3 linked regions of the Homo sapiens genome follow. The protein of the gene in region 3 purifies or fractionates together with the protein of the main gene of each other region. This does not show direct contact. Each region holds a gene or a part of one and is shown on either strand. Other genes may lie near its edges.

Region 1 (4,263 bases), on a different chromosome or scaffold from region 3:
TTCTTCTCCCAGCTCAAGGAGGGAGGAGCGGCTCCCACCAGCAGGTCCAGTTTGGGCTTGTTCCATGCTGGGAGAGCGCCAGGACCTGTGCAGAGCCAGCAGGGATAGGACCTGTGGCTCCAGGAGGCCCCCACATGCTGCCCCTCAGCCACCTGCCAGCCCTGTTTTATGAGTATGTTTACCGTGGCTGTCACTTTGTCCCGGTCTGTCACAAAGGCACGGAATCCTTCCCCAAACAAGGTGCCAGCCGCCCTGTGGGGAAAGCAGTGGTGTGACCAGGAGGGAAACAAAGACCCACGCCACGTAGCAAGAACAGGTTGAGGGTGAGGCCTTGACACAGCAGCCTGGTCCTGCCAGGACAGGGGGGCAGTGTCCCCACCAAGGAGCCAGCCTACAGCGGCCAGACCTGGGAGAGCTGGAGAGCACCCTGGGACCAGCGACTCACACCTGTGGGGGCTCCATCTGCGGCCGGCCCGGGCCTCGGCAGCGCTCACCTGATGGACTCCAAGAAGGTCTGATGGTGCTTCTGCACGGACTCCTCCTGCTTCCGTAAATCCTCATTGACAAGTTGCTGAGAAGAAGCCGCAGAAAAAGAGAAAAGCCTTTAAAACCAGAAAAATGCTCAACACCAATCCAGAGGTTGCGTCCGCCCCAGGACCGCAGGGCTCCAAGCGTCCCGGGCACCTGGGGACCTGCAGACGCCGCACCCTGACACAGACACGGGTGACATCGGCCGGGACGGCAGTCACTGAGGGGATGGGTTCAGGGGCCCAAACTCCCCAGCGGCAGAAACAGCCCCCACTGTGGCTTCCCTGACAAGGGCCACTGCTGGCCGACCTCCCAACACCACTGCCCTGATTCAGGCTGGGCTTAAGGAAGCTTCTGTCTTCTGCCAATTAAACGTTAAAGCTACAATGCCCACAACAGGCAACACGTGAACCCCGCCTGTGAGCTCAGGACTGAAGGTGACCGGCCGGGCACCGTGGCTCACACCTGTAATCCCAGCACTTTGGGAGGCCGACGCAGGTGATCACTTGAGGTCAGGAGTTCAAAACTAGCCTGGCCAGCATGGTGAAACCCTGTCTCTAATAAAAATACAAAAATTAGCCGAGTATGGTGGTGGGTGCCTGTAATCCCAGCGACTTGGGAGGCTGAGGCAGGAGAATGGCTTGAACCCAGGAGGCAGAGGTTGCGGTGAGCTGAGATCGCACCATTGCACTCCAGCCTGGGCAACAGAGTGAGACTCCGTTTCAAAATAAATAAAATTAAAAAATCTTGCTGAGCTGGACGCGGTGGCTCACGCCTGTAATCCCAGCACTTTGGGAGGCTGAGGCAGGCGGAGATCAGGAAATCGACACCATCCTGGCTGACACGCTGAAACCCCATCTCTACTAAATATACAAAAAAAATTAGCTGGGCGTGGTGGCAGGTGCCTGTAGTCCCAGCTCCTCAGGAGGCTGAGGCAGGAGAATGGTGTGAACCCGGGAGGTGGAGCTTGCAGTGAGCCAAGGTCGCACCACTGCACTCCAGCCTGGGCGACAGAGCAAGACACCATCTCAAAAAAAAAAAAAATCCTGCTGAGTCAAAGAAATGAGGTGAGAATGTCAAGAAGATCCAGGCCCTCAGGACGACCAGACGCCCTCACCAACACCGGCCCTCCCTCTCGGGCGGCTCTGCGGCAGCGTCTCTCACCTCCCCTTGTTTCCTTCTGTGAAATGAGGCGCCCAAGCTTGGCCCTGGGCCCCACTGCTGCCCATGTACACACCCCCGGCCCTACCCACCGGCAGTAGCCCTACCAATCTCCACGCCCGAACCCCATGTGTGCCCCGGCCTCCCCGCCCACACCGGCCCCACTCACTTTGAGCTTGGACTGTTGCTCCAACTGCAGCGTCTGCTCCTGCATCTGCGCCAGATTCAGGGCGTCCTTTGACATGGCCTGCAGATGCAGGGACACGGAGGGCAGGTGTTAGGATACACGGATGCCGCTGGGCAGGCACGCACACCAGCCAAGGGGCTTTCTGGAATCCACGGCCACGCCTCGACCTCAAAGCCCCCAGCCCTGCCTCCCCATCCTCCTTCCTAGTCAGACCTGGCGTGACGATGCCCCATCCCCAGCACACGGCCTGATGCATTTGTGAGGTTTTATGCCCTCCAGGGATGGTCTTGGAGAGCCACATCAGGAAGGCCATCCCATGTGGACGGGAGGAGGCTCTTTCCCAATTCAACAGAAAGTCAGGCGATGGCTAAAGTGTCCATTTTTTCACGTTACACATGCTTTTTTTTTTTTTTTTTTTGAGACGGAGTCTCATTCTGGCCCAGGCTGGAGTGCAGTGGCATGATCTCTGCTTACTGCAAGCTCTACCTCTCGGGTTCACGTCACTCTCCTGCCTCAGCCTCCCGAGTAGCTGGGACTACAGGCGACCGCCACCACACCCGGCTAATTTTTGTAGTTTTAGTAGAGACGGTTTCACCGTGTTAGCCAGGATGGTCTCGATCTCCTGACCTCGTGATCCGCCCACCTCAGCCTCCCAAAGTGCTGGGATTACAGGTGTGAGCCACCGCGCCCGGCACATACCCTTTTCCTAAGCTTCCAATGGCTGTTGTCAGTGATCTGCTATCAAGAACGTGCGGGCAAGAAAATGAAAGAATAAGAATTAGATAGCAGCCAACAAGCTCAGGGTGACGAGGACAAGCATCTGACAACGTCCTCAGTTACATTTTGTTCCTAGTGGGGAACCGACACAGGTCAATGTTTGGGTGACCTGGGACAGAAGTACGTATTCTCTGAGCTGCTGAGGACTCAGCATCAGGTCTCAACATTTTCCGGGATGAGTTTTCCCATCACAAAATTTTACCATAAAAATCTTCTGGCCGGGCGCGGTGGCCCATTGAGAAAATATGCAGGACCTTGGGGAGTTAATCATGAAGGGGATTAAAGAATCCATGCCCGGAACCCAGAATCTTACCCGAATATTTAACATACAGCAAGGAAAAGATAAAGGGCCTGCGACATAATTTTTAGACAGATTAAAAGAACAAATGAGAAAATATGCTGGTCGAGGTGTCGAGGATCCTCTTGGGCAAGGAATTTGTCACTAACAGTTGGCCAGATATTAACCACAAATTACAAAAGAAAGAACTAGAAAAATAAGCCTGTAGAAGAGATTCTAAGAGAAAGGGAAAAAAATCTTAGAGGAAAGAGAAAGACTGACAGAAGGAACAGAGAAAGTCAGAGAGAGAGAGAGAGTCAGAGAGAGAGAGAGACAGAGTCAGAGAGACAGAGTCAAAGAGAGAGAAAGACTGACAGAGGGAACAGAGGAAGTCAGAGAGAGAGAGAGAGTCAAAGAGAGAGAGAGACAGGCAGAGACAGAGTCAGAGAGAGAGACAGAGTTAGAGAGTGAGACAGAGACAGACAGAGAGAGACAGAGTCAAAGAGACAGAGAGAGCCAGAGAGAGAGAGAGACAGAGTTAGAGAGAGAGAGAAAAGGAGAGATAGAAGTAGTCAAGAAAAAGCAATGTGCCCCATTCTTTTAAAAGCCAGAGTACGCCCGGCGTGGCAGCTCACCACGCCTGTAATCCCAGCACTTTGGGAGGCCGAGGCGGGCAGTTCAGGAGGTCAGGAGATCATCCTGGTTAACATGGTGAAACCCTGTCTCTACTAAAAATACAAAAAATTAGCCGGGTGCGGTGGTGGATGCCTGCAATCCCAGCTATGCAGGAGGCTGAGGCAGGAGAATTGCTTGAACCCAGGAAAGACAGAGGTTGCAGTGAGCCGACACAGTGCCACTGCACTCCAGCCTCGACGACGAATGAGACTCTGTCTCAAAAAAAAAAAAAAAAACAACTTACCGAAAGGCATGGAGGCCACTGACAACTATCCTTAATGTGGTAACCCACAGACGGCCGTAGTGCATTACAGGACGACACTTATTTAAAGATAGTTCCTCCCAGGTGATTCGAGGAAAAAGACACAATGGGTAATCAGTAACTAACAGGAAAAACTCTTGTGGAAATAGAGTTAAGAGGCCGGGCTCTGTGGCTCACACCTGTAATCCCTGCACTCTGGGAGGCTGAGGCGAGTGGATCACCTGAGGTCAGGATCACCTGAGGTCAGGAGTTCGACAGCAGCCTGGCCAACATGGTGAAACCCCATCTCTACTAAAAATACAAAAATTAGCTGGCCGTAGTGGCAAGCACCTGTAATCCCAACTACTCAGCATGCTGAGGCAGGAGAATCGCTTAAACTCAGGAGGTGGAGGCTGC
Region 2 (3,649 bases), on a different chromosome or scaffold from region 3:
TGGAAAGATCTCTAACATTCTAGAAGGGAAAAAGTCAATGAATACCACAGTGAAATACTATTCAAAACTCATCAGAAAGGCAAAAAGTAAAAAGTCTGTCAATACCAAGTATTGGCAGGGATGTGGCGCAACAGAAACCGCATTCCTACTTATGGGAGCTTAACCACTTTGGTGAGGTTGAAGAACTGCATACACTACAGCTCTGCAATTCCATTTCTGGGTATGTACCATTCTTGCACACGTGCACAAAGAGAATACTGAAAGCTTTTCTAATAGTAAAAAACAAAACAAACTAACAAAAATACTGGGAACAAACTAAATATCCACCAATTGCTGAACTGATGAACAAAATGTAGTCTATACATACAATAGAATACTACGCAGCAGTAAAAAAAAAAAAATTTACTCCAACTTTTTGCAGCAACATAAATGAATTTTTAAAATTATATATATATATACACATATATATACATACATACATACATACATATATATATATATATATATATATTTTTTTTTGAGATGGAGTCTCCCTCTGTTACCCAGGCTGGAGTACAGCGGTGCAATCTCTGCTCACCTCAAGCTTTGCCTCCCAGATCCAAGTGATTCTCCTGCCTCAGCCTCCCTCCTGAGTAGCTGGGGTTACAGGTGCAGCTAACTTTTTATATTTTTAGTAGAGACAGGGTTTCACCACTTTGTCCAGGCTGATCTCAAACACCTACCTTCAACTGATTTGCCCGTCTCGGCCTCTCAAAATGTTGGGATTACAGGCATGAGCCACCGCACCTGGCCTAAAGAATAATATTGAGTGGTCTGGGAATGGTGGCTCACACCTGTAATCCCAGCACTTTCAGAGGCTGAGGCGGGCGGATCACGAGGTTGGGAGTTCGAGACCAGCCTGATCAACATGGTGAAACCCTGTCTCTACTAAAAATACAAAAATTAGCTGGGCGTAGTGACGCGCGCCTGTAATCCCAACTACCCAGGAAGCTGAGGCTTGAACCCAGGAGGCAGAGGTTGCAGTGAGCTGAGATTGTGCCACTGCACTCCAGACTGGGCAACAGAGCGAGACTCCATCTCAAAAATAAATAAATAAATAAGAAATAAATAATAATAATATTGAGTGAAGAAATCAAGTTGCATAAGAAGCATAAAGAAGGAAGTTATACAAATCTATAGAGAAAGAAAGTAGATGAGTGACTGCCTAGCTGAGAAGAGGCTGGGAGGAAATGGCAAGTGACTGCTAATACACATGGAGATTCTTCACGGGGTGAGGAAAACATTCTAAAATTGATTTTGATGACAGTTGCACAACTCTATGAATACATTAAAAATCATTGAATTATATATTTTAAATGGGTCAACTGTATGGTATATAAATTATATCTCATAAAGCTGTTAAAAAATAAGAATGATATAATAAAAGAAGTAGAACTAAGTATATTGGCCAGGCATGGTGGCTCACGCCCATAATCACAGGACTTTGGGAGGCCAAGGCAGGCAGATCACCTGAGGTCAGGAGTTTGAGACTAGCCTGACAAACATGGTAAAACCCTGTCTCTACTAAAAATACAAAAAAAATTAGCCGGGTGTGGTGGCACACACCTGTAATCCCAGCTACTCAGGAGGCTGAGGCAGGAGAATCGCTTGAACCCGAGAGGTGGAGGTTGCAGTGAGCCAAGATGGCACCACTGCACTCCAGCCTGGGTGACAGAGAGAGACTCTGTCTCAAAAAAAAAAAAAAAAAAGAACTAAACAATATATTATTATTTAGAGTTATGTGCATATATGGTAAAATTAAAAAGAAAAAGAGGCAGGGCACAGTGGCTCACTCCTATAATACCAGCACTTTGGGAGGCAGAGGTAGGCGGACTGCTTGAGCCCAGGAGTTGAAGACCAGCCTGGGCAACATGGCGAAACCCCATCTCTACCAAAAATACAAAAATTAGCCATGCATGATGGCACGTGTCTATAATCTCAGCTACTAGGGAGGCTGAGGTGGGAGGACTGCTTGAGCCCAGGAGGTCGAGGCTGCAGTGAGCTGAGATCGCACCCCTGCACTCCAGCCTGGATGACAGATTGAGACACTGCCTCAAAAAAAAAAAAAAAAAAAAAAAGGAAAGAAAAAAGAAAAGAAAAAGAAAGGATTAACACCAAAAATCGGGTTGGCATTTGCCCCTCTAGGAACAAGAAAAGAGGGACAAGGCTGCTGTGGGGGCTTCAGAGACCCTGATCATTTCTACTTCTTAGGCTGGGTGATGGGTGTGTGATTATTAATTTGCTATTATGTTTTATACTGAAATATAAATAGCATTTTATTCATCAAAAATTCCATAACCAAATAAATTTTAAATATTCCTTTCCTCTTAAGCATTTGTATAAAGTTCATTAAAAAAAAAATTAAAATGAAATTATTTGCCAGTAAAACATTCTGTTATTTGACCATTTGTAGATATGAATGTGTGTGGGAGTCTATTCATTTTGCGTGTGTGTGATATTCTGAGTTACTAGACCATTCAAACAATTCCACCTTTTAAAAAACAGTACATATATGCTTTCAATTAACTATTCACAGGTGAAGTAACTCTGTTTTTCCTTTATACAGCTGTGCTGAGTTATACAGAAAATGCATTCTGAAGACAGAGATTTACCTGTTTGTCATTAATAGAGTGCATTTCAATTTCTTTCTTTGCCTGCAGCAGCTTATCCTGAAAGCAATACAGAATAATTAGTCGTGATGACCGTCTATATGCATGTCCGTTTATTGCAAAGGAGAGAAAAAAAGCAATTATTTCTATATGTATGTATTAAATTCCAGAAAACACACAAAACAGTATCTACATTGCATAGACAGACTGGGCCACAGCCTATGAAAGAAAGAAGTTGTGAAGTATGTTAAGCTATGAATAAGTGATAAAAGTTTGAAAATTAATTAGAGAAAGATAGTAGAAAACAGATAAACCTCAAAATCCCAGTTAACAGTACTAATTGCTGAGGCTGACTCTACAGTTCTAATAAATGTCTTATTATTTAGTTGTGATATAAGACAAGAACAACTCTATTAATATGTACTGCTCCCCAAAGTTGAGGGTATGTGTGACTCCCTGTCAATACTGCTTTTTGTCCAATATTTTCTTCTTCTACTATAAACCCAAACATAGTAAGAATCACTTTCTGGATAGACTGGGTAAACTAGGCCTGGCTACTATAAAATACTCTTAAGCAAGGTTACCTGTGTAATTATGTAATTCTTCCAAGGTCCTAATTTTGTTTGTTTTACTTAGTCTCAAGAAAACAGATATCAGATTATCTTAATTTGCTGTAAAAAGTAACTTAAATAATATCATGCAATAGAGAGGAACCAAAGGAGAGGCGAATTCTTCCAAAAGGCATGCAGAGTTTCTAAACCTGAATATGTCTATAATGAAATAATATTGTCCTATGACTAAAGATACATACAGCTTGACTTTGCAAAGACTGGAATTAAAAATTACATTAGAAAAGAAAGAATTTCTCAGCCAGGCATGGTGGCTCACCCCTGTAATCCCAGCACTTTGGGAGGCCAAGGTGAGTGGATCACCCAAGCTCAGGAGTTTGAGACCAGCCTGGGCAACATGGTGAAGCCCCGTCTCTACCAAAAATACAAAAA
Region 3 (3,649 bases):
CTATCCCAGTCCTCATCCCACATGGCCAGCGTTCTCCTACCTTCAATGATCTTTGCTGCAAACTCTCGGATAGACTTGAGGGAAGCCAAGTCCAGGTGCCGGGCGTTGACATGGTGATTGAGGGTCTCCCCGCGGATGTCCTTTGCTGCCGCCTCACACTTCTCCATGTCTCGGCAGGCCAGGATGATGTTGCCTCCTGAAAACCCAGGATGGAAAAAGATTTAAATTAATAATCCACTCCTGGGTACTGACCCCAGAGACATGAAAACATACGTCTACACAAAAACACATCCACCAATGTTCACTGCGGCATTCTTCACAAAAGCCAAAAGGTAGAAACAACCAAATGCCCATCTGTGGATGAAGGGACAACAAAATGTGGTCCATCCATAGAGATGGAATATTAGACGGCCGTGAAAAGGAGTGAAGCACTGGCTCATGCTACAGCAAGGATGACCGTCAGAAACACTGTGCTCGGGGAAAGAAACCAGACACGAAAGACCACACAGCGTACAATCCCATTTACATGAATTCTATGTATATGATTTCACACCTATGAAACGCCCAGAATAGGCAAATCCATAGAGAAAGAAAATAGATTCTTGGTTTTCTAGGGCAGGGGGTGGGGAGAGGGAATTACAGCTTGATAGTTACAGTGAGCAGGTTTCTTTCTAGGGTAACAGATGTTCTAAGATTGATTTTAAAGATGGTTGCATCATTCTGTGACTATACTAAACATCACTGAATTGGTCGGGCACGGTGGCTCACACCTGTAATTCCAGCACTTTGGGAGGCCAAGGCAAGAGGATTCCCCATCCTCTCCTTTTTTTTTTTTTTTTAGATGGAGTCTCACTCTGTCACCCAGGCTGGAGTGCGGTGGCGCAATCTCGGCTCACTGCAACCTCCACCTCCTGGGTTCAAGCAATTCTCCTGCCTCAGCCTCCCGAGTAGCTGGGATTACAGGCACCTACCACAACTAGCTAATTTTTTATTTTTTTATTTTTAGTAGAGACAGCGGTTTCACCATGTTAGCCAAGCTAGTCTTGAACTTCTGACCTCAGGTGATCCACCCCGCGGCCTCCCAAAGTACTGGGATTACAAATAAGCCACAATGCCCAGCCTCCAATTTTTTTTGTTGTGGTAAAATACAAATCACTTAAAATTTATCATCTTAACCCCCTTTTCTTTTTGTTTATTATTATTTTTTTTTTTTTGAGTCAGTCTCACTCTGCTGCCGCGGCTGGAGTGCTGGCGCCATCACAGCTCATTCAGCCTTGAACTCCTAGGCTCAAGTGACCTGGGACTATAGGTACCACCTGTGCCAGCATGCCTGGCTAACTCTGGTAGAGATGGGGGTGTTGCTATGGTGTCCAGGCTGGTCTGGAACCCCTGGCCTCAAGTGATCCTCCTGCCTCAGCCTCCAAAAGTGCTGGAATTATAGATGTGAGCCACCGAGACCCGCCCTCTTAGCCATTTTTAAGTGTCCAGTTCATTGGTATTAAAAACATTTATGGCTGGGCCGGGCATGGTGGCTCACACCTGTAATCCCAGCACTTTGGGAGACCAAGGCAGGTGGATCACCTGAGGTCAGGAGTTCAAGACCAGCCTGGCCAACACATTACAAACTTAGCTGGGTGTGGTGTTGCATGCCTGTAATCCCAGCTACTCGGGTGGCTGAGGCAGGAGAATTGCTTGAACCCGGGAGGCGAAGGTTGCAGTGAGCCAAGATCATGCCACTGCACTCCAGCCTGGGCGACAAGAGCAAAACTCCATCTCAAAAAAAAAAAAACAATAATAATAATTCCTAATGTTGTGCAACCATTACAACCATCCATCTCTCAAATTGTTTCATCTTGCCAAACTAAACTTCCGTTTCCATTAAACAGTAACTCCCCATTCTCCCCTCCCCTCCTGACCCCTGGCAAGCACCATTCCAACTTCTCTATGAATTTAACTGTAGGTAGCTCCTGTAAGTGGAATCATACCGTATTTGCTCTTCTGTCGACTGGCTTATTTCACTTCATGGAATGTCCTCAAGGTTCATCTGTTTCAATGCCCTTTTTTTTGTTTTGCTTTGTTTTGTTTTGTTTTTGAGTCTCACTCTGTCACCCAGGCTGGAGTGCCGTGGCGCCATCTCTGCTCACTGCAACCCCTGCCTCTCAGGTTCAAGCGATTCTCCTGCTTCAGCCTCCCAAGCAGCTGGGACTACAGGTGCCCACCACAACTCCTGGCTAATTTTTGTATTTTTAGTAGAGAGGGGGTTTCACCATGTTGGTTAGGCTGGTCTCGAACTCCTGACCTCGTGATCCGCCAGCTTTGGCCTCCCAAAGTACTGATTACAGGCGTGCACCACCGCGCCCGGCCAGAATGCCCTTCCTTTTTAAGGCTGAATCATATGCCCCTGTCTATAGAAGCCACATTCTGTTTCCCTGTTCATCTGTGGATGGGTGCCTGGGTTCCTTCCACCTCCGGACTGTGAATAATGCTGCAGTGAGCATGGATGTACAGATATCTCTCTGAGAGCCAAAGCAGGGGAGATTTTACCTCTCCTGGCCAGTTCCAAGGCGGTCTGCTTCCCGATGCCTGTGTTGGCACCCGTCACGATGACCGTCTTCCCAGGGATGGTGGCCTTGCTGGGGCAAGCCCCACCGGTGACATAGTCCCTGAGGGTGAGAAGCGGCACGGTCAGTCCTGTGGGCCCACTCTCACCCCACGTGCCCCTGACTGAATGATCTCAGGCAACCTTGTCTGAGCTCACTCACATACCCCAACTGAAACACAGACATCATCACATCACACCAAGGGACCTCTGTCATGTTCTCCATAAGTGGCTCCACCCAGTGTCTGGCGTGTGGAACGCCTTCAGCAAGTGACAGTCATTATTTTATAAATGCTCACTGCATGAGATTCCCGGCCAGGTGAGGGGGCTTGCACCTGTAATCCCAGCACTTTGGGAGGCCAAAGTTTTGGGGGTGGGGGGGGGCGGGGGCGGATCACTTGAGGTCAGGAGTTCGAGTCCAGCCTGGCAAACATGGCGAGACCCCGTCTCTACTTAAAATACAAAAATTAGCCAGATGTGTAGGGAAAAGAGAGATTAGACTGTTACTGTGTCTATATAGAAAGGAAAGACATAAGAGACTCCATTTTGAAAAAGACCTGTACTTTGAACAATTGCTTTGCTGAGATGTTGTTAATTTGTAGCTTTGACCCAGCCACTTTGACCCAATCTGGAGCTCACAAAAACCTGTGTTGTATGAAATCAAGGTTTAAGGGATCTAGGGCTGTGCAGGAAGTGCCTTGTTAACACAATGTTTCCAAGCAGTATACTTGGTAAAAGTCATCGCCAGTCTCTAGTCTCAATAAACCAGGGGCACGATGCACTGCAGAAAGCTGCAGGGACCTCTGCCCTTGAACACAGAGTATTGTCCAAGGTTTCTCCCCGTGGGATAGTCTGAAATATGGCCTCGTGGGATGAGAAAGACCTGACCGTCCCCCAGCCCAACACCCGTAAAGGGTCTGTGCTGAGGTGGATTGGTAAAAGAGGAAAGCCTCTTGCAGTTGAGAGAGAGGAAGGCCACTGTCTCCTGCCTGACCCTGGGAACTGAATGTCTCGGTATAAAACCTGATTGTACATTTGTTCAATTCTGAG

The links.
Region 1: the proteins of RDH13 (region 3) and ATAD3C purify together in Homo sapiens (affinity purification with mass spectrometry; one large-scale study listed by BioGRID and IntAct). This does not show direct contact.
Region 2: the proteins of RDH13 (region 3) and KDSR fractionate together in Homo sapiens (co-fractionation; one large-scale study listed by BioGRID). This does not show direct contact.

What each region holds. Positions count from the first base shown.
Region 1 is NC_000001.11:1,448,354-1,452,616, reverse strand, and holds the start of ATAD3C (ATPase family AAA domain-containing protein 3C), read right to left. Parts: upstream 2,929-4,263; 5' UTR 1,934-2,928; coding exon 1,859-1,933; intron 572-1,858; coding exon 495-571; intron 253-494; coding exon 183-252; intron 1-182.
Region 2 is NC_000018.10:63,357,085-63,360,733, forward strand, and holds part of KDSR (3-ketodihydrosphingosine reductase), read right to left. Parts: intron 2,709-3,649; coding exon 2,652-2,708; intron 1-2,651.
Region 3 is NC_000019.10:55,056,613-55,060,261, forward strand, and holds part of RDH13 (retinol dehydrogenase 13 isoform 1 precursor), read right to left. Parts: intron 2,664-3,649; coding exon 2,545-2,663; intron 197-2,544; coding exon 41-196; intron 1-40. UniProt on the Homo sapiens protein: Retinol dehydrogenase with a clear preference for NADP. Oxidizes all-trans-retinol, but seems to reduce all-trans-retinal with much higher efficiency. Has no activity toward steroids.